Linked DNA regions of Homo sapiens. The protein of the gene in region 2 interacts with the protein of the main gene of each other region in a pairwise test. Each region holds a gene or a part of one and is shown on either strand. Other genes may lie near its edges.

What was found.
Region 1: the proteins of C3orf62 (region 2) and ING5 interact in binary tests that used the Homo sapiens proteins (3 or more experiments, as listed by UniProt).

The regions. Positions count from the first base shown.
Region 1 is NC_000002.12:241,710,981-241,719,595, reverse strand, and holds part of ING5 (inhibitor of growth protein 5), read right to left. Parts: intron 8,220-8,615; coding exon 8,108-8,219; intron 7,619-8,107; coding exon 7,525-7,618; intron 114-7,524; coding exon of another isoform or gene 1-113. UniProt on the Homo sapiens protein: Component of the HBO1 complex, which specifically mediates acetylation of histone H3 at 'Lys-14' (H3K14ac) and, to a lower extent, acetylation of histone H4. Component of the MOZ/MORF complex which has a histone H3 acetyltransferase activity.
Region 2 is NC_000003.12:49,273,709-49,282,779, reverse strand, and holds the start of C3orf62 (uncharacterized protein C3orf62), read left to right. Parts: upstream 1-5,547; 5' UTR 5,548-5,907; coding exon 5,908-6,353; intron 6,354-8,593; exon of another isoform or gene 8,594-8,639; coding exon 8,640-8,731; intron 8,732-9,071. Other genes in the region: USP4 (ubiquitin carboxyl-terminal hydrolase 4), read left to right, coding at 1,933-2,036, 3,878-3,966, 4,329-4,487. UniProt on the Homo sapiens protein: Essential for normal spermatogenesis and male fertility.

The DNA.
Region 1 (8,615 bases), on a different chromosome or scaffold from region 2:
GGGTGAGGAAGAGACCAGGAGGAGTCCCACTTTCACGCAGAAAAGGCACGGTCGGGACAGGGCCTTCAGGTTCCGAGCAGGAAGGAGCAGGAAGACTCAGAACGCTGTTGCCACTGAGTTAGAAAACACAAAACCCAGCAAGTCACAAAAACCACATTCTCAAAGATGTCGGGGAGCTGTGGAGCAACAAGAGCTAGATGACCTGCAGCCAGAGTGGGGGGTGTTGGGGGGTTGGGGGCGGCGTCCGCCTGCCTCATGCACTGAGTGAGGGCTGGGCTGGCCACTGGGCCACGCTGAGCCCACACAGCCACACATGGCGGCCGCGTCCCCACCGACATTTATAGTCCAGAGGCTGCACAGAGCAACTAAAAGCAGAGGGAAAATCCCTGCAACCTCGGAGTTCTCGAGCAAGGGGTCTGCTCGGGCACCGCTGGTCTCCTCCCCCGCACTTCTACCAACTGTGGAAGCCGCTGGGGCAGGAGGCGAGAGAGGAAACCTCAAGGTCCTCAAGGGGCCTCGGTGGAGCTGAAGCTGAGACCCTGCCCCGCCCCAGGCCCCCAGCCCTATTGGCCTGGACTAAAACAGAACGAACACCTCCTGGGGAGAACAGAAATTTCCCTCTCCACGCTTCCTTTATATCTAAAGTCAGACAGCTAATAAATCATGAGACATGTACCCTCAGCAGGGAAATAGGACTGATTATGTTTTTTTAAAAGCTGGTTACCAAGGAATGGTGGCACATGCCTGTGATCCCGGCTACTCAAGTGACCCTCCCACCTCAGCCTTCCAAAGTGCTGAGATTACAGGCATGAGCCAAAGCACCCAGCCCTACAATCTCTTAAATGAAAAATGTATTAAAGGAGATTAAAACTAACTTAGGGCCGGGCACAGCAGCTCACGCCTGTAATCCCAGCACATCGGGAGGCCAAAAACAGGCAGATCCACCTGAGGCCAGGAGTTCGAGACCAGCCTGCATAACACGGTGAAACCCTGTCTATACTAAAAATACAAAATTAGCCAGTCATGGTGGCACGTGCCTGTAATTCCAGCTACTTGGGAGGCTGAGGCAGAGAATCGCTTGAACTTGGGAGGCGGAGCTTGCAGTGAGCCAAGATTGTACCAGTGCACTCCAGCCTGGGTGACCAAGCAAGACCGTCTCAAAAAAAAAAAAAAAAAGACAGAAAGAGAAAAGAAGGAAGGAAGGAAGGAAGGGAGGGAGGGAGGAAGGGAGGGAGGGAGGGAAGGAGGAAGGAAGTGAGGGAGGGAGGGAGGAAGGGAGGAAAGAAGAAAGGAAGGAAGGAAAGAAAGAAGGAAAGGGAAGGTGAGAGGCTGAGCTGGGCGGATCACTTGAGGCCAGGAGTTTGAAACCAGCCTGGCCAACAGGCTGAAACCCCGACTCTACTAAAAATACAAAACTTAGCCGGGTGTGGTGACGCTCACCTGTAATCCCAGCTACTTGGAAGGCTGAGGCGGGAGAATGGCTTGAACCCGGGAGGCAGAGGCTGCGGTGAGCGGAGATTGCGCCACCGCACTCCAGCCTGGGCCACAGAGCCTGAACCTGTCTCATAAATAAATAAAGTAATAGAAACAAATCAAACTGAAGTACAGAAAGAAAAAAGCTTGCAGAAAGTAAGCAGAGCCTCGGTGAGCTGTGAGAAAATCTAAGCTAAGGAACGCACAGGGAGCTGGACAGCAGGAAGAGGAGAAAGGAGAGCACAAAAATACTGGAAGAACTGTCTGAAAATTTTCCAAATTCGATGCAAAGTATAAACCAACAGTTCAAAGATGCTCAACAAGTTCCACGCAAAATATACACAAAAAAATCACACCAATACACATCATAACCAAACTGTTAAGAGCCAGTGACAATGAGAAATCTTAAAAGCAAAAAAAAAAAAAGAAACCACCAAAAATAATTATTATCAGTAATTTATCATCAGAATCAATGAAAGACAGAAGAAAATGAGAGAACATCTTTAGCGATAAAAGAAAAAAGGTCAACCTAAAATTCTATACGCAGTGAAATAAAAGCATTTTCAGAGAAACAAAAACAGAGAATTCATCACCATCAGCATACATGTACTGCAAAAAATGTTAAAGTTCTTCAGTAGAGGAGAAATGACAAGACAGAAATTTGCATCCACATAAAGAAATATACGTAAGCAGAATATGTATGGAAAAAAAATTTTTAAAGAAAGAAAATAAATATTAAGAAATAATAGTTGGGCCAGGCGCGGTGGCTCATGCCTGTCATCCTGCCACTTTGGGAGGCTGAGGCGAGAGGGTCACTGGAGGCCAGGAGTTCGAGACCAGCCTGGCCAACATGGCAAAACCCCATCTCTACTAAAAATACAAAAATTAACCAGGTGAGTAGGTGGGTGTAATCTCAGCTACTCAGGAGGCTGAGGCACAAGAATCACTTGAACCTGGGAGGCAGAGGTTGCCGTGAGCTGAGATCGCACCACTGCACTCCAGCCTGGGACACAGAGCAAGACTCTGTCTCAAAAAAAAAAAAAAATGAAGGTTACCAGAAATGGCAACTATATGAGGTAACTATATATGGGGTGACTTTTGTGGTGAGAACACTTAAAATCTACACATTTTTTTGAGACTATATTGTTATTAACTGTAGTCACCATGTTGTAAAACGGATCTTTTGAACTTATTCCTCCTATCTAAATGAAATTCTGTATCCAACGTCTCCCCTGACCACCCCAGCGCCTGACCACCATTCTACTCTCTACTTCTGTGAGTTCAACATCTTTACATTCCACATATATTTTAAGGCGTGTTTCACGTCATCAGTGGTTTGCATCTAAGGTAATAACGTGCTGGGAAGCTCAGATCACAGGCAAAGTGAAGGACAACAGCACAAAGGCAGGAAATGGAAGAACACTTGTGTGGAGCCACACGTTAAACATCAAATAGTGTAATATCTGAAGCTCACTGTGATAACTTAAGGAAACTGAGTGCACACACTAGAACAATCCTTAAAATACAGGGGCCGGGGCAGTGGCTCACGCCTGTAATCCTAGCACTTTGGGAGGCCGAGGTGGGTGGATCACTTGGGGTCAGGGGTTCGAGACCAGCCTGGCCAAAATGGTGAAAACCTGTCTCTACTAAAAATACAAAAACATTAGCCGGGTGTGGTGGCGCACACCTATAATCCCAGCTACTGCGGAGGCTGAGGCATGAGAATCGCTTGAACCTGGGAAGCAGAGGTTGTAGTGAGCCAAGATCATGCCATTGCAAATTGTACTCCAGCCTGGGCAACAGTGCAAGACTCCGTCTCAAAAAAAAAAAAAAAAAAAAAAGCATGGCTAATAAGACAAGAGTGGGGAAAAAAACGGAATACTAAAAAATACCTGATTAGTCCAAAAGAAGACAGCAAAGGAGCAGAAGGAACAAACAGAAAACTAATAGCAAGATGGTGAACCTAAATCCCACCATATCATTAATTATGTTAAATATGAACAGACCAAATATTGCAATGAAGGCCGGGTGCGGTGGCTCATGCCTGTAATCCCAGCACTTTACAGGGAGGGGAGGCCAAGGTGGGCAGATCATTTGAGGTCAGGAGTTCGAGACCAGCCTGCCCAGCATGGTGAAATCCTGTCTCTGTTAAAAATACAAAAATTAGCTGGCTTTCAAAGGATTTCAATTATGTAATGTTCTTTGACCACAACAGAAGTCAACTAAAAAATTAAAATTAGAAAGGTATCTGAAAAATCCCAAATTATTTGGAAATTGAGACACATACTTCTACATAAGTTATAGGGCAAAGAAGTAGCATGAAAAAAAAAATTCTAGGTCAGGTGCGGTGGCTCACGCCTGTAATCCCAGTATGTTGGGAGGCCAAGGCAGGCAGATCACCTGAGGTCAGGAGTTCAAGACCAGCCTGGCCAACATGGTGAAACCCTGTCTCTACTAAAAATACAAAAAAAAATTAGCCAGGCATGGTGATACGTGCCTGTAATCCCAGCTACCCAGGAGGCTGAGGCAAGAGAATTGCTTGAACCTGGGAGGTGGAGGTTGCAGTGAGCCAAGATCACACCACTGCACTCAAGCCTGGGCAACAGAGTGAGGCTCCGTCTCACCAAAAAAAAAAAAAAAAAAAAAAAAATTCTATTCCAGCACTTTGGGAGGCCAACGTGGGTGGATCACTTGAGCTCAGGAGTTTAAGACCACCCTGGGCAACATGGTGAAACTCCATCTCTACCAAAAATATAAAAAATTAGCCAGGCATGGTGGCATGCACTTGTGGTCCCAGCTACTTGGGAGGCCGAAGTGGGAGGATCTCTTGAGCCCAGGAGGTGGAGGCTGCAGTGAGCCAGGATCATGCCACTACACTCCAGCCTGGGTGACAGAGTGAGACCTCATCTCAAAAAACAAGAAAAACATTCTAAAATATTTTAAATAGGTAAACGAAATAAAAATTTAAAACAATATCAAAATTATATCAAAATCATAATATATCAAAATTTGTGGAGTGCAACAAAGATAATAATTAGAACAAGGAAGATATAAAAATCAATTATGCAAGCTACTTCCACCTTAAAAAGCTAGAATAGTATAGGCAAAGTAAACCTGAGTAGAAAACAGGAAATAGAGAGTAGAAACAAATGCAATAGCAAACAAAAAAATAGAGAAAACAATAAAAATAATGAAACTAAAAGCTAGTTCTCTAAAAAGATCAAGACGGCCAGACGCAGTGGCTCACGCCTGTAATCTCAACACACGGAGAGGTTGAGGCAGGCGGACTGCTTGAGCCCAGATGTTTGAGACCAGCCTGGGCAACATGATGAAACCCTGTCTCTACAAAAAATTAGCCAGGCATAGTGGCGCATGTCTGTGGTCCCAGCTACTCGGGAGCTGAGGTGGGAGAATCACTTGAGCCTGGGGACAGGGAGGTGGAGGCTGCAGTGAGCCATGTGCATGCCACTGCACTCCAGCCTAGGTGACACAGCTAGACCCTGCCCTCAGGGAAAAAAAAAAAAGGATCAAGACAAAATGAGAGAAACATAAATTACCAGTATCAGGACTGAAAGAGGGGTCATCATAACAGACACATCAGAACCATAATAATGCAAAATTATTAACAACCTGATGTCAAAAAAATCTGACAACTTACATGAAACAAATTTCTTGAAAGACACAGATTTTTTCCAAAACTGACTCGAGAAGAAATAGAAAGCCTGAATACTTCCATAACTTTAAAGGAACTGAATGCAACATCAAACTGTACACTTAGAATAACATTTTATTGTATGTAAATTATTCCTTAATAAAGTTAATTTAAAAGGTTAGAAAAACAACAGGACTAAACTATAATGTATAGTGTCTAGGAATGCACTATAAAACTATTAAAGAAACAAGGAAATAAACACTATAGAAATCTGGATCATGTTTATTTGGGGGCAGGAGGAGTTTATGATTTTAACAGGGCATATGGAAGGCCTTCCAGCAGCAGTTAATCACTGACTAGGTGCTACTTACAAAGATCTTCACTTTACGGAAATTAATTAAACCATGTTTGTTCTGTGCGGTTTTCTGTATCTGTGCACTACTTTACAATACGAGAATGTTGGGATTTTTTTTTTTTTTTTGAGACGGAGTTTTGCTCTGTCACCCAGGCTGGGGTGCAGTGGTGTGATCTTGACTCACTGCAACCTCCACTTCCCGGGTTCAAACAATCTCCCTGCGTCAGCCTCCCGAGTAGCTGGGATTACAGGCAGCTGCCAACTACTCAGCTAAGTATTTTGCATTTTTGGTAGAGACGGGGTTTCACCATATTGGTCAGGCTGGTCTTGAACTCCTGACCTCAGGTGATTAACCTGCCTTGGCCTCCCAAAGTGCTGCGATTACAGGCATGAGCCACCTCGCCCGGCCAAAAGGCTAAGCACTAGCTAAAAAACTGAAAATTGGGGCTGGGCACAGTGGCTCACGCCTGTAATCCCAGCACTTTGGGAGGCCAAGGCAGGTGGATCACGAGGTCAGGAGATCAAGACTATCCTGACTAACAAGGTGAAACCTCATCTCTACAAAAAATAAAAAAAAATTGGCTGGGTGTGGTGGCATGCACCTGTAGTCCCAGCTACTTGGGAGGCTCAGGCAGGAGAACTGCTTGAACCTGGGAGGCAGAGGTTGCAGTGAGCTGAGATCGCGCCACCACACTCCAGCCTGAGGGACAGAGCAAGACTCCATCTCAAAAAAAAAAAAAAAAAAAAACTGAAAATTGGGTCGGGTGTGATGGCTCATGCCTGTAATCCCAGCACTTTGGGAGGCCGAGGCAGGTGGATCACCTGAGGTCAGGAGTTCGAGACCAGCCTGGCTAACATGGTGAAATCCCATCTCTACTAAAAATACAAAAACTTAGCCGGGCATGGTGGTGCGCACTTGTAGTTGCAGCTATCCAGGAGGGTGAGGCAGGAGAATCGCTTGAACCTGGGAGGCAGAGGTTGCAGTGAGCCGAGATGGCGCCATTGCACTCCAGCTTGGGCAACAAGAGCGAAACCCCATCTCAAAAAAAAAAAAAAAGAAAATTGTCCCTTTTTTGTCAAGAAGAACTCTTTTTTTCTCTTTATTTTTTTTTTTTGAGACAGAGTCTCATGCTGTGGCCCAGGCTGGAATGTAGTGGTGCGATCGTGGCTCATGATCCTCCCAGCTCAGCTTTCCCTAGTAGCTGGGACTACAGCCCACACCACCACCCTCAGCTAATTTTTTCTATTTTTTGTAGAGATGGGGGACTCACTTGGTTGCCCAGACTGGTCTCAGATTCCTGGGCTCAAGTGATCCTCCCGCCTTGGCCTCCCAAAGTGCGGGAATTATAGGCATGAGCTACCGTGCCCAAAACTTACACTCTTTGACCCTCCCTCTGTGAGATCATCTCCACAGAGGCTTCGTGGCATTTCAGCATTTTCTCTTTAGTCTAAATGTCACTCCTCTGAGGTAATGCTACGATCTCTTTGGAGGGTATACAACACCTTTGGCAGGGAGGGTGTCAGTGGGAGAATGCTTTAAATAAAGTATCTCAAAAAACTTCAAGTTAAATGACATGTCTATTTAATAAATGTGGCCACATAATTAACAATGAATATATGCACACTATATGTTGACACATAAAATAACTGACAGATATACAGAAATCTAGCTACTTAAAGAGTGGTCTACATTGGCCTCTGTCAACAACACGTTGCTCACCATCCTCCTGTCCCTAGTGGGGCAGCACACACTGTGGCTAAGAGGACAGGCACTGGAGTCAGACTCCAGGTGCAGCCCAGCCGCACCACAGCAGCCCTAAAGCCTGGGCAGGTCCCTGCGACACTGAAAATGCCCCTGACAACGGCACCCCCTCAAAGGCTGCGGTGAGGACAGGCTGACGACAGGCGCGCAGCGTAAGAATCAGAATACCACCCGGCACACGGGGTGCACTTCACTCGGGTCAGCTTCCATCAGTGTTCCTACATCCGGGATACAGGCTATGGGTATTCGTTCTTTTGGGAAAAAGAGGGGAAAGCCTCTTACCCTCCTTTGTGCTTCTTTTTCTTTGGTGTGTCTTCCTCTGATGTCCTCCTGCCTCGGCCCCGGGACCCTCTTTTTTCTTTCTGACCCCGGCCTTCTGAAAAATAATCAAGATGCAAATTATTTTTATAGAATTCTCTAAAGCAAGGCAAGTTTTGTGTTTTGTTTTTAAAAAGGGGTCTCGCTCTGTCTCCCAGGCTGGCTGGAGTGCAGCGGAGCAATCATAGCTCACCGCAGCCTTGACCTCCCGGGCTCAAGCAATCCACCCACCTCAGCCTCCCGAGTAGCTGGGACCACAGGTGTGCACCACCACACCTGGCTAATTTTTAAATTTTTTGTTGAGATGAGGTCTCGCTATGTTGCCCAGGTTGGTCTCAAACTCCTAGCCTCAAGTGATCCTCCTGCCTCAGCCTCCCAAAGTGCTGGGGTTACAGGCGTAAGCCACCACACCCAGCCTGCAAGACAAGGTTTACCCAAATATGATACTTACCCTAGTGATCATACTTTAATGATTTACCGTGACAAAACTCTTCAAAACTCCATAGTTAACAGTAATAAAATAAAGAAAAAAAATTAACAGACTTGCTTTTTAACCCTCGCCCTCCGGAGCTTTCAAAATCACTGCCCTCCATCTTGTCCTTCAGATCTGCTTCAAAGCGCGCCAGGTCTGCATCAAGCCTTCGAATGTGTTTATCCACCTACAAAAGGATACCCAAAGTCTTATTTTAAAGTAAAACCAAAACACCTCAGAATCACGAATGTACAAAAGTATCCACCAGGAAACACCTTCTTGCCCTTTAATTGAGTCTCCAATGAACAAACCTCTGCTAAAACAAGGCCCACTATTTCAAAGTCCATGCAAGGGTCTTGTGCTTTTTCTGCATATTTTGACATTGCAATGGAATAAATCCCATTTAGGGAAAAGACATGAGTGTGGGCAATAATGAGAAGCAGAGTTGTGAAATGCAGTGAACAAGGCCTGGGATATCTGACGCTGAACCCTACTTTAAAATATGGCTACCTGGAGGCCAGGTGCAGCGGCTCACACCTGTAATCCCAGCACTTTGGGAGGTCGAGGCAGTCTGATCACCTGA
Region 2 (9,071 bases):
GCCAAGATTGTGCCACTGCACTCCAGCCTCAGCAACAGAGCAAGCCCCTGTTTCCAAAAAAAGAAAAAAAAAAGGGAGTTGCCCACAAAATGTAGATTTTAAAATGCTTTCTGGGGGAAAGAATAGATACATGAAGTATAGCATGTCAGCAGGAGACGCCAGGTGATGGATAATAAGTATTTGTTGTAAAAATTCTTTATCTTGGCTGGGCGCAGTGGCTCACACCTGTAATCCCAGCACTTTGGGAGGCTGAGGTGGGCAAATTACGAGGTCAGGAGTTTGAGACCAGCCTGACCAACATGGTGAAACCCCATCTCTACTAAAAGTACAAAACAAAATTAGCTAGGCATGGTGGCGCATGCCTGTAATCCCTGCTACTTGGGAGGCTGAGGCAGGAGAATCACTTGAACCCAAGAGGCAGAGGTTGCAGTGAGTCAAGATCGCGCCACTGCACTCCAGCCCGGACGACACAGCGAGACTCCGTCTCAAAAAAAAAAAAATTCTTTATCTTTTCTGTGTGTTTGAAAATTTTTAAATAAAATATTGGAGGAAGAAAGCTTTCTGGGGCCTGTTTTGGTTGAGTTTAAATTATTATGGCACCAACTGTAATTCTGTTAAGAACAGCCATTTCTGCATACTTGCTGAAGCCCTCTGTGTGTATCTCTAGACCCTCATCACCATTTTGTCTGGTGCTGGAGTTACCCAGAAAGGTTCTCCCATTTTCTTTTGTTGTTGTTGTTGTTTTTTTTGTTTTGTTTTTGTTTTTTTTTGAGACCGTGTCTCACTCTGTCGCCAGGCCAGAGTGCAGTGGTGCGATCTCGGCTCACTACAACCTCTGCCTCCTGGGTTCAAGCAATTCTCCTGCCTCAGCCTCCTGAGTAGCTGGGACTACAGGCGCCTGCCACCATACCCAGCTAATTTTTGTATTTTTAGTAGAGACGGGGTTTTACCATGTTGGCCAGGATGGTCTCAAACTCCTGACCTCATGATCCACCCACCTTGGCCTCCCAAAGTGCTGGGATTACAGGCATGAGCCACTGTGCCCGGCCTTTTTTTTTTTTTTTTGAGACGGAGTTACGCTCTTGTTGCCCAGGCTGAAGTGCAATGGCACGATCTCGGCTCACTGCAAACTCTGCCTCCCAGGATCAATCGATTCTCCTACCTCAGCCTCCCAAGTAGCTAGGATTACAGGTGTGTGCCACCATGCCCGGCTAATTTGTGTGTGTGTGTATATATAAATGTATATATGTGTGTGTGTGTGTGTGTGTGTGTGTGTGTGTGTGTGTGTATATATATATATATACACATACTTTTTTTCTTTTTTGAGACGGAGTCTCGCTCTGTTGCCCAGGCTGGACTGCAGTAGTGCGATCTTGGCTCACTGCAAGCTCCACCTCCCGGGTTCACGCCATTCTCCTGCCTCAGCCTCCCGAGTAGCTGGGACTACAGGCGCCCACCACCACGCCCAGCTAATTTTTGTATTTTTTAGTAGAGACAGGGTTTCACCGTGTTAGCCAGGATGGTCTCAATCTTCTGATCTCGTGATCCGCCTGCCTTGGCCTCCGAAAGTGCTGGGATTACAGGTGTGAGCCACCGTGCGCGGCCTAATTTTTGTATTTTTAGCAGAGACGGGATTTCACCATGTTGGTCGGGCTCGTCTCGAACTCCTGATCTCAGGTGATCCACCTGCCTTGGCCCCCCAAAGTGCTGGGATTACAGGCATGAGCCACCACACCCAGCCCCATTTTCTAGCCTGAATATGTCAGTGGTCAGAACATGGATCCTAGAGTCCCTTCCATCTTGGTCTCTCTCGAATAGTTTGAGTGCCTCCCTGTGTTCTGCCCTGTTGCATAACAGAGGTTGCTGGGTTACTCTTAACTACTTTGTTTGGGTTTAACATATTCAATAACTATTTTTGTGTTTTGTGCTCAGAGGGCTGAACATGTCCGAGTTTGTCTGTAACCTGTCAGCAAGGCCTTATGTGTACGACCTCATTGCCGTGTCCAATCATTATGGAGCCATGGGGGTTGGCCACTGTAAGTATTGACATCTGCTTCCTTCTGAGATGTTGAAATGTGCTCGGCCATCATCTCTCACCAGTGGACCAGGCATTGCCCTAAATGCTTTGCTTATGCAGTTTCACAGGCTTCATGCTGCACGCTTTCTTCATACTGATTCCCCTCTCTGTTTTTTTTTAATTCTTTTTTTTTTTTTTTTTTTGAGACGGAGTCTCGTTATGTCACCCAGGCTAGAACACAGTGGCGCAATCTCACTCACTGCAAGCTCTGCCTCCCAGGTTCACGCCATTCTCCTGCCTCAGCCTCCTGAGTAGCTGGGACTACAGGCGCCCGCCACCACGCCTGGCTAATTTTTTGTATTTTTAGTAGAGACGGGGTTTCACCATGTTAGCCAGGATGGTCTCGATCTCCTGACCTCGTGATCCGCCCGCCTCGGCCTCCCAAAGTGCTGGGATTACAGGTGTGAGGCACTGTGCCTGGCTGGTTTGCTCTTTTTTTGAGACAGATTCTCACTCTGTCACCCAGGCTGGAAAGCAGTGGCGCAGTCTCGGCTCACTTGCAACCTCCACCTCCCGGGTTCAAGCGATTCTCGTGCCTCAGCCTGCCGAGTAGCTGGGATTACAGGTGTGCGCCACCACACCTGGCTAATTTTTGTATTTTTAGTAGAGACAGGGTTTTGGCATGTTGCCCAGGCTGGTCTTGAACTCCTGGGCTCAAGCGAACCACCCTGCCTTGGCCTCCCAAAGTGTTGGGATCACAGGTGTGAGTCACCGTGCCCTGCCTGTGTTCATTTTTATTTGCTAATTTTTGCACACAAACATACCATTTGGGCAAGTTTCTCATCCTCAGTTTTCTCATCCATGAGGTTAGGCTGGTTGTGTGAGGGTCCACATTGGGCCTACAGTTGGAACTTCAAAATTGAAAGCCACCGTTGCTGCTATTGTGTCAAGCACAGACTGTGTGAACTGGCCTTGGGCACCTTCTCTGTTGCCCTTTCCCATGATCCTCACCACCACTTTGTGCAGTCAATGCTATAGTGAGGAAACTGAGGCTGAAGTGTTAAACACCTTACCTAAAACCACACAGTAAGTTGACACTGGATATCAGATCTCCATTGGGTTCTGTAGTTTCTGAGAGTCTGGGTGGAGCAGGAACTGGGCTGGGATTGCTGTAATAAACACATCCTGCTTGGGAATAGTGTAAAGTCAAGACAAGAAGCATTGCCTCTGGGAAATGCTTGAATCATTGTGGGAAACTGTTACCTAACCACAGACTCTGGACTCCTAGTTTTAGAGAAAGATAAATTTTTTTTTTTTTGGATATGGAGACTAAGGTATGTTGTTCACATCCCAGCTCTGCAAACCCAAACACCCAATGTTCCTCTAACTGGGATTATTCTGTAGGCTCCCGAGGCACTAAGCATTCTGTTGATGTTAGTAGCCACCTGCCTAGATGCAATGGGGGAGACTGACTTGGCATGTCCTTGTGAGAGCTATTGTTTTGCTTAAATCTTAGAAGTTTCAGCTCCTTTTATGGGTTCCCTGGTTTTGGATTATTGCACATAGCCATCCTGAAGATTGGCACTGAATAGCTCTGTTTTTTCTATTAGTTTCCCAAAATTATAGTTTAAAATCTTGGTCCCTGACAGCTCCATTTTTAGCCTTTTGATCCTTTTTGAGAAGGAACAGATTAGAAAAGAAGGTGAGTTGTTTTTTGGTTGTTAAGACACACACTGTAAACTTTTTTAATTTCAGGGGTTTTGTTTTGGGGATTTTTGTGTTTATTTAGTGCAAGCCTAATAAGCTAGCCAGATTAATTCTCTGGAGACCGCTAGAGTATTTTCTTTGTTGACTTGGCAGACACTGCATATGCGAAGAACAAACTGAATGGTAAATGGTATTACTTTGATGATAGCAACGTGTCCCTGGCCTCTGAGGATCAGATAGTGGTGAGTAGGCCATGATATGTGGTTCTTCCTCATGTCGTTATGGATTAAAGCTGGGAAGAGCCTCTATCAGGCTAGTTGGTTATTTCATCATCCTGATGTGATAGTGGGAGCTAGGTGTGACAGAGCTGGCTGGCATTCCTTCAGGGACCTTCATAAATGAGAAGCTCAGCTCTCCTCAGAGTTCTCTGCACAAGGCTCCTTCCATTTCCTGCTGCCTGGCAGGGGCAGCCATCCTCAGGTGGAAGGGTCTCCTCTGTGTGGATATGGCAGATCCTTGAGGGTTTTGGACAGCTAGAGAAAAGCTGGGGAAAATGGGTGATTTTTCCAAGCACTGAATGGTCTTTCCCCCTCTTGTATTTCAGACTAAAGCAGCTTATGTGCTATTTTACCAACGTCGAGATGATGAATTTTATAAGACACCTTCACTTAGCAGTTCTGGTTCCTCTGATGGAGGGACACGACCAAGCAGCTCTCAGCAGGGCTTTGGGGATGATGAGGCTTGCAGCATGGACACCAACTAATGCTGACTCCACGATCCTGCCACCCTGTAGCGCCAGTGTAATCCCCCAGGAGAACATCTTTGACACTCTGCAGACTGCTAGTGTTCTGTCTAAAAACCAGACAAGGAAATACCCTTCTTTTATGAGCAGAAGGAAACAAAAAAAAAAAAAGAAGACCGTTTACCTAGAAGAAGCTATGTCAAGAGGCTGAATTATTTTTATTTTTAAACAGGTGGTGAGAAATTTCTGTGAAACCTGTGAAGCTGAAAAGGGGGTGGGATGGGGGTACTCAATGGAGTATGTCTGATGGATCCCGAAGAATGGAGAGGAACACAGGCGCTGAGTATGGAGCAGCCTGGAGACCCACCCCACCTGCAGGGCTGCCCTGAGCGCCTGGATTTCTGGTTCTGATGCCAATACTAGTCACCCCAAGTAGTCTGCTCACAGTAACCCAAACCTCAAGTAAACTCCCCTTTCCCTCGCTATGTGCACTGATATGGGTTTATAATTTTCTGAAAGTTACCCACTGAAGCCCATTTCTCCGTTGAGTCATCTTGTAATTTCCAGCTTTCTCCCCGCTAAGGAAGATATCTAGTGTTGGGGATCCTGGCCCCTCAACCTCCTGTGGAACCCAGCAGTTCTGTTATATCCCCTGCTACCCTAGATGAATTAAGACGGTTAAATACTGTGTGGAACTTTTATTAGATAACACACTTTTTATTAGATAACGCTTAAAGGAAGTCAGTACATAAAACTGCCCGGTGCTGTGTCCCGTCTAGTTGTTTCCATGTTGGCTTGAGAACAGAAATCTTTGTGGGAGTTAGCCGGGAAAGGGCTCCAGTTCATGGCGATTTAGGGTAGTAATACATTTTGGTGTTACCCAGATGCTTTCTAGAACGGGTTCTTTCCTCATCCCTGCCAAGACTCTTCCCGGGGCCCCCATTCGAAAGCCCCGTCCCCACTCCCACCGCGGGGCCAGCCGCTGCGTGTGGGCAAGGCCTTAAGGAACCGGACGTATGGGTCCGGGATTTTTTGTCTGACCTTCAACCTAATCCGTGGGGGTTTGGGGCCTGCGCGGGGCACGCGCATGCGATGACCGTTGGATGGGTCGGCGTCACTGCGCTGCGGGTGAGGACAAGGACGTGGCTGCCGACTCGCCAAAGGGGGGGTGCCGGTAGGGCCAGCGGCCTGGGAGCCGCGGTGGGGCGGGAGGCAGCGGCGGGGCGGGCCAGGAAGCTGTGGGAAGTGGGGCGGGGCGTCTTTGGGGCTTCTGGCAGATGGCGGGTTCCTCCGCGAGAGCCGAGAACCGCCTACTCCAGGAGGAAAGCCCGAGGGTTGTGGGTCCTGCTATAGCCAGGGCCAAGCTCCAGGAAATCGTGGCCATTCAGGGGTAGTTTGCAGCCTCATTTGTAACATTATTGTGTTGTCCTGTGCATTTCCAATGCATTACATAAAGACATGGTCGCTTTTAGGAGAAATGTCTGAAAAACTAAGAAGATGCAGAAAGGAACTGACTGCAGCCATTGACCGGGCCTTTGAAGGAGTTAGTTATTCCCAGGAGTGCACAGGCCAGCAGAGGCTGGAACTGAGCGCCGCGCCGCTCTCCTTCTCGCTGCCCGTGCACAGGCTCCTCTGCAGAAGACATCCTCTGGCAGCCTGCTCTTCTGCTGCTCCTTTTGCTGCTGTCCCATGTGCTCCTGAGAATGAGAACCCTGCCTTTGCAACAAACCATGCCCCGGTAAATGCAAAACCACATGCTCTGTGCCCCGAGAGAAAACCTCTAACCAGCAAGGAAAATGTATTGATGCATTCCTCCATTTTGGCACCTGAAAGAGAGTCTTGGAGAACTGCAGGAGAGGGGGAAAACTGGAGAAAAGAAAATTTAAGGTGATTCTAATTTTGATGGTTTAACAGCTACAATTAAGGGGATTCTTGTTTCTGAAAAAGTTGTTGAAGATCCTAGATTTAGTTCATGACAGTGCTCTTGCCTCCTCTTGGCAGCTCTGTGACTGCATTTGGGGAGTTGACAGACATTCTTCAGAATCTGGCCTAGGAAACAGTTATATTTTGTGTATATGTTCCAGTTGAGGGGCTAGTTGTCAATCGTTGATGTCAAAAACCAGTCATGGAAACCACTTTGCAGTACCCAAAGGGGTAGTGGATGTAAAATAACCGGGTTTTAAAAATAACCTTATTTTTTAAGTTGCAGAAACAAAAGTCTTAATTCCATCTTAACTCCTGTGTTTGAATCTGGACACTGGGGCCTTTGATACCCTCCTTTGCCCACATTAGGGAGAGGCTTAATTGAAGGCTGGGCCCTACTTCCTGGCTTCATCTTTGCCTCTGCTCCCCGCTCTTACCCCAGATCTTTTTGGACCATCACCAGGTCTCTTCTAGACTTTTTCTTCTCCCGAGTAACTTGAAATTGCCTGGTCCCAGGCACCTTGACTTGGAGAAGGGATGAATGTATGAGATGAAACTTCAGGCCGGGCGCGGTGGCTCACACTTGTAATCCCAGCACTTTGGGAGGCCGAGGCGGGCAGATCACGAGGTCAGGAGATCGAGACCATCCTGGCTAACACGGTGAAACTCTGTCTCTACTAAAAATACAAAAAATTAGCCGGGCGTGGTGGCGGGCGCCTGTAGTCCCAGCTACTCGGGAGGCTGAGGCAGGAGAATGGCATGAACCCGGGAGGCGGAGCTTGCAGTGAGCCGAGATCACGCCACTGCACTCCAGCCTGGGCGACAGAGCGAGACTCCGTATCAAAAAAAAAAAAAAAAAAAAAAAAAAAAACTTCAAAGTTCTGCCATCTTGGCTGCTTCATAGGAAGGGGATAAAGAGGCCATTTAATTGGTTCAACTCCACAAGAATTTTTTTCCTTTCAACTCCACAAATATTTATATTGGTACTCATAAGCAGTGCAGGCCTTGCCGGGTGTGGTGGCACGCCTGTAATCTCAGCACTTTGGGAGGCTGAGGTGGGTGGATCGCTTGAGGTCTGGTGAAACCCCGTCTCCACTAAAAATACAAACATAAGCCGAGCGTGGTGGCGCGCGCCTATGATCCCAGCTACTTGGGAGGCCGAGGCAGGAGAATTGCTTGAATCCTGGAGGCAGAGGTTGCAGTGAGCTGAGATCTTGCCATGGCACTCCAGCCTGGGCAACAGAGCAAGACTCCATCTTAAAAAAAAAAAAATGCTGGGCACAGTGGCTCACGCCTGAATCCCAGCACTTTGAGAGGCTGAGGCGGATGAATCACCTGAGGTCAGGAGTTTGAGACCAGCCTGGCCAACATGGTGAAACCCCGTCTCTACTAAAAATAGAAAAATTAGCTGGGTGCCGTTGCGGCCGCCTGTAATCCCAGCTGCTCCAGAGGCTGAGACAGGAGAATCGCTTGAACCCAGGAGAAGGAGGTTGCGATGAGCCGAAATTGCGCCCTTGCACACCAGCCTGGGCGACAAGAGCAAGACTCTGTCTTTAAAACAAACAGGCCAGGCGCGGTGGTTCACTCCTGTAATCCCAGCACTTTGGAAGACTGAGGCGGGCAGATCACCTGAGGTCAGGAGTTCGAGACCAGCCTGGCCAACATGGTGAAACCCCCATCTCTACTAAAAATACAAAAATTAGCTGGGCGTGGTGGCAGGCGCCTGTAATCCCAGCTACTCAGGAGGCTGAGGCAGGAGAATCACTTGAACCTGGGAGGCAGAGGTTGCAGTGAGCCGTGATTGCGCCATTGCACTCCAGCCTGGGGGACAAAGCGAGACTTCATCTCAAAAAAATAAATAAAAAATAAAAATAAATAAATAAGTAAACAAATGCAGGCTGGGTGAGGTGGCTCATGCCCGTATTCCCAGCACTTTGGGAGGCTGAGGCGAGTGGATCGCCTGAGCCCAGGAGTTCGAGACCAGCCTGGGCAACATGGCTAAACCCTGTCTCTAAAAAAGAAAAAAATTTAATACAGTCTGCGATGCTCGTGAGTCATTATGGTAAAGCTGTTAGTCAATTTCTCCACTGATGTAGCAGTTTCCAATTGTCCTTTAATCAAAGCATAAATGACAAGGTCACCAGTAAGTTTTTGTCTTTGAGATTATCTAAAACTGAGTTTCCCTTCAATATTTTCTTGAAAGAGAATCTAATTCCCCACCTTTTCTTCCCCCCCACCTGGGGGCTGCAGGAAAGATATGGAGAGAGATTTGAAGGCTGACTCAAACATGCCACTCAACAATTCTAGCCAAGAGGTCACAAAGGATCTGCTTGATATGATTGGTGAGTACAGTGGGCAAGTCCATCCTGTCCTTGGGAAGATAGGTCCTTCACATGGGTCTGAGTCAGCAAATATCTCAGATATAAGAAATGCTCTCGGCCAGGCACGGTGGTTCATGCCTGTAATCCCAGCACTTTGGAAGGCCGAGGAGATCGAATCATGAGGTCAGGAGTTCAAGACCAGTCTAACCAATATGGTGAAACCCCGTCTCTACTAAAAATACAAAAATTAGCCAGGCGTGGTGGTGCACGCCGGTAATCCCAGCTACTCGGGAGGCCGAGGCAGGAGAATTGCTTGAACCCGGGAGGCAGAGGTTGCAGTGAGCTGAGATCTTGCCACTGC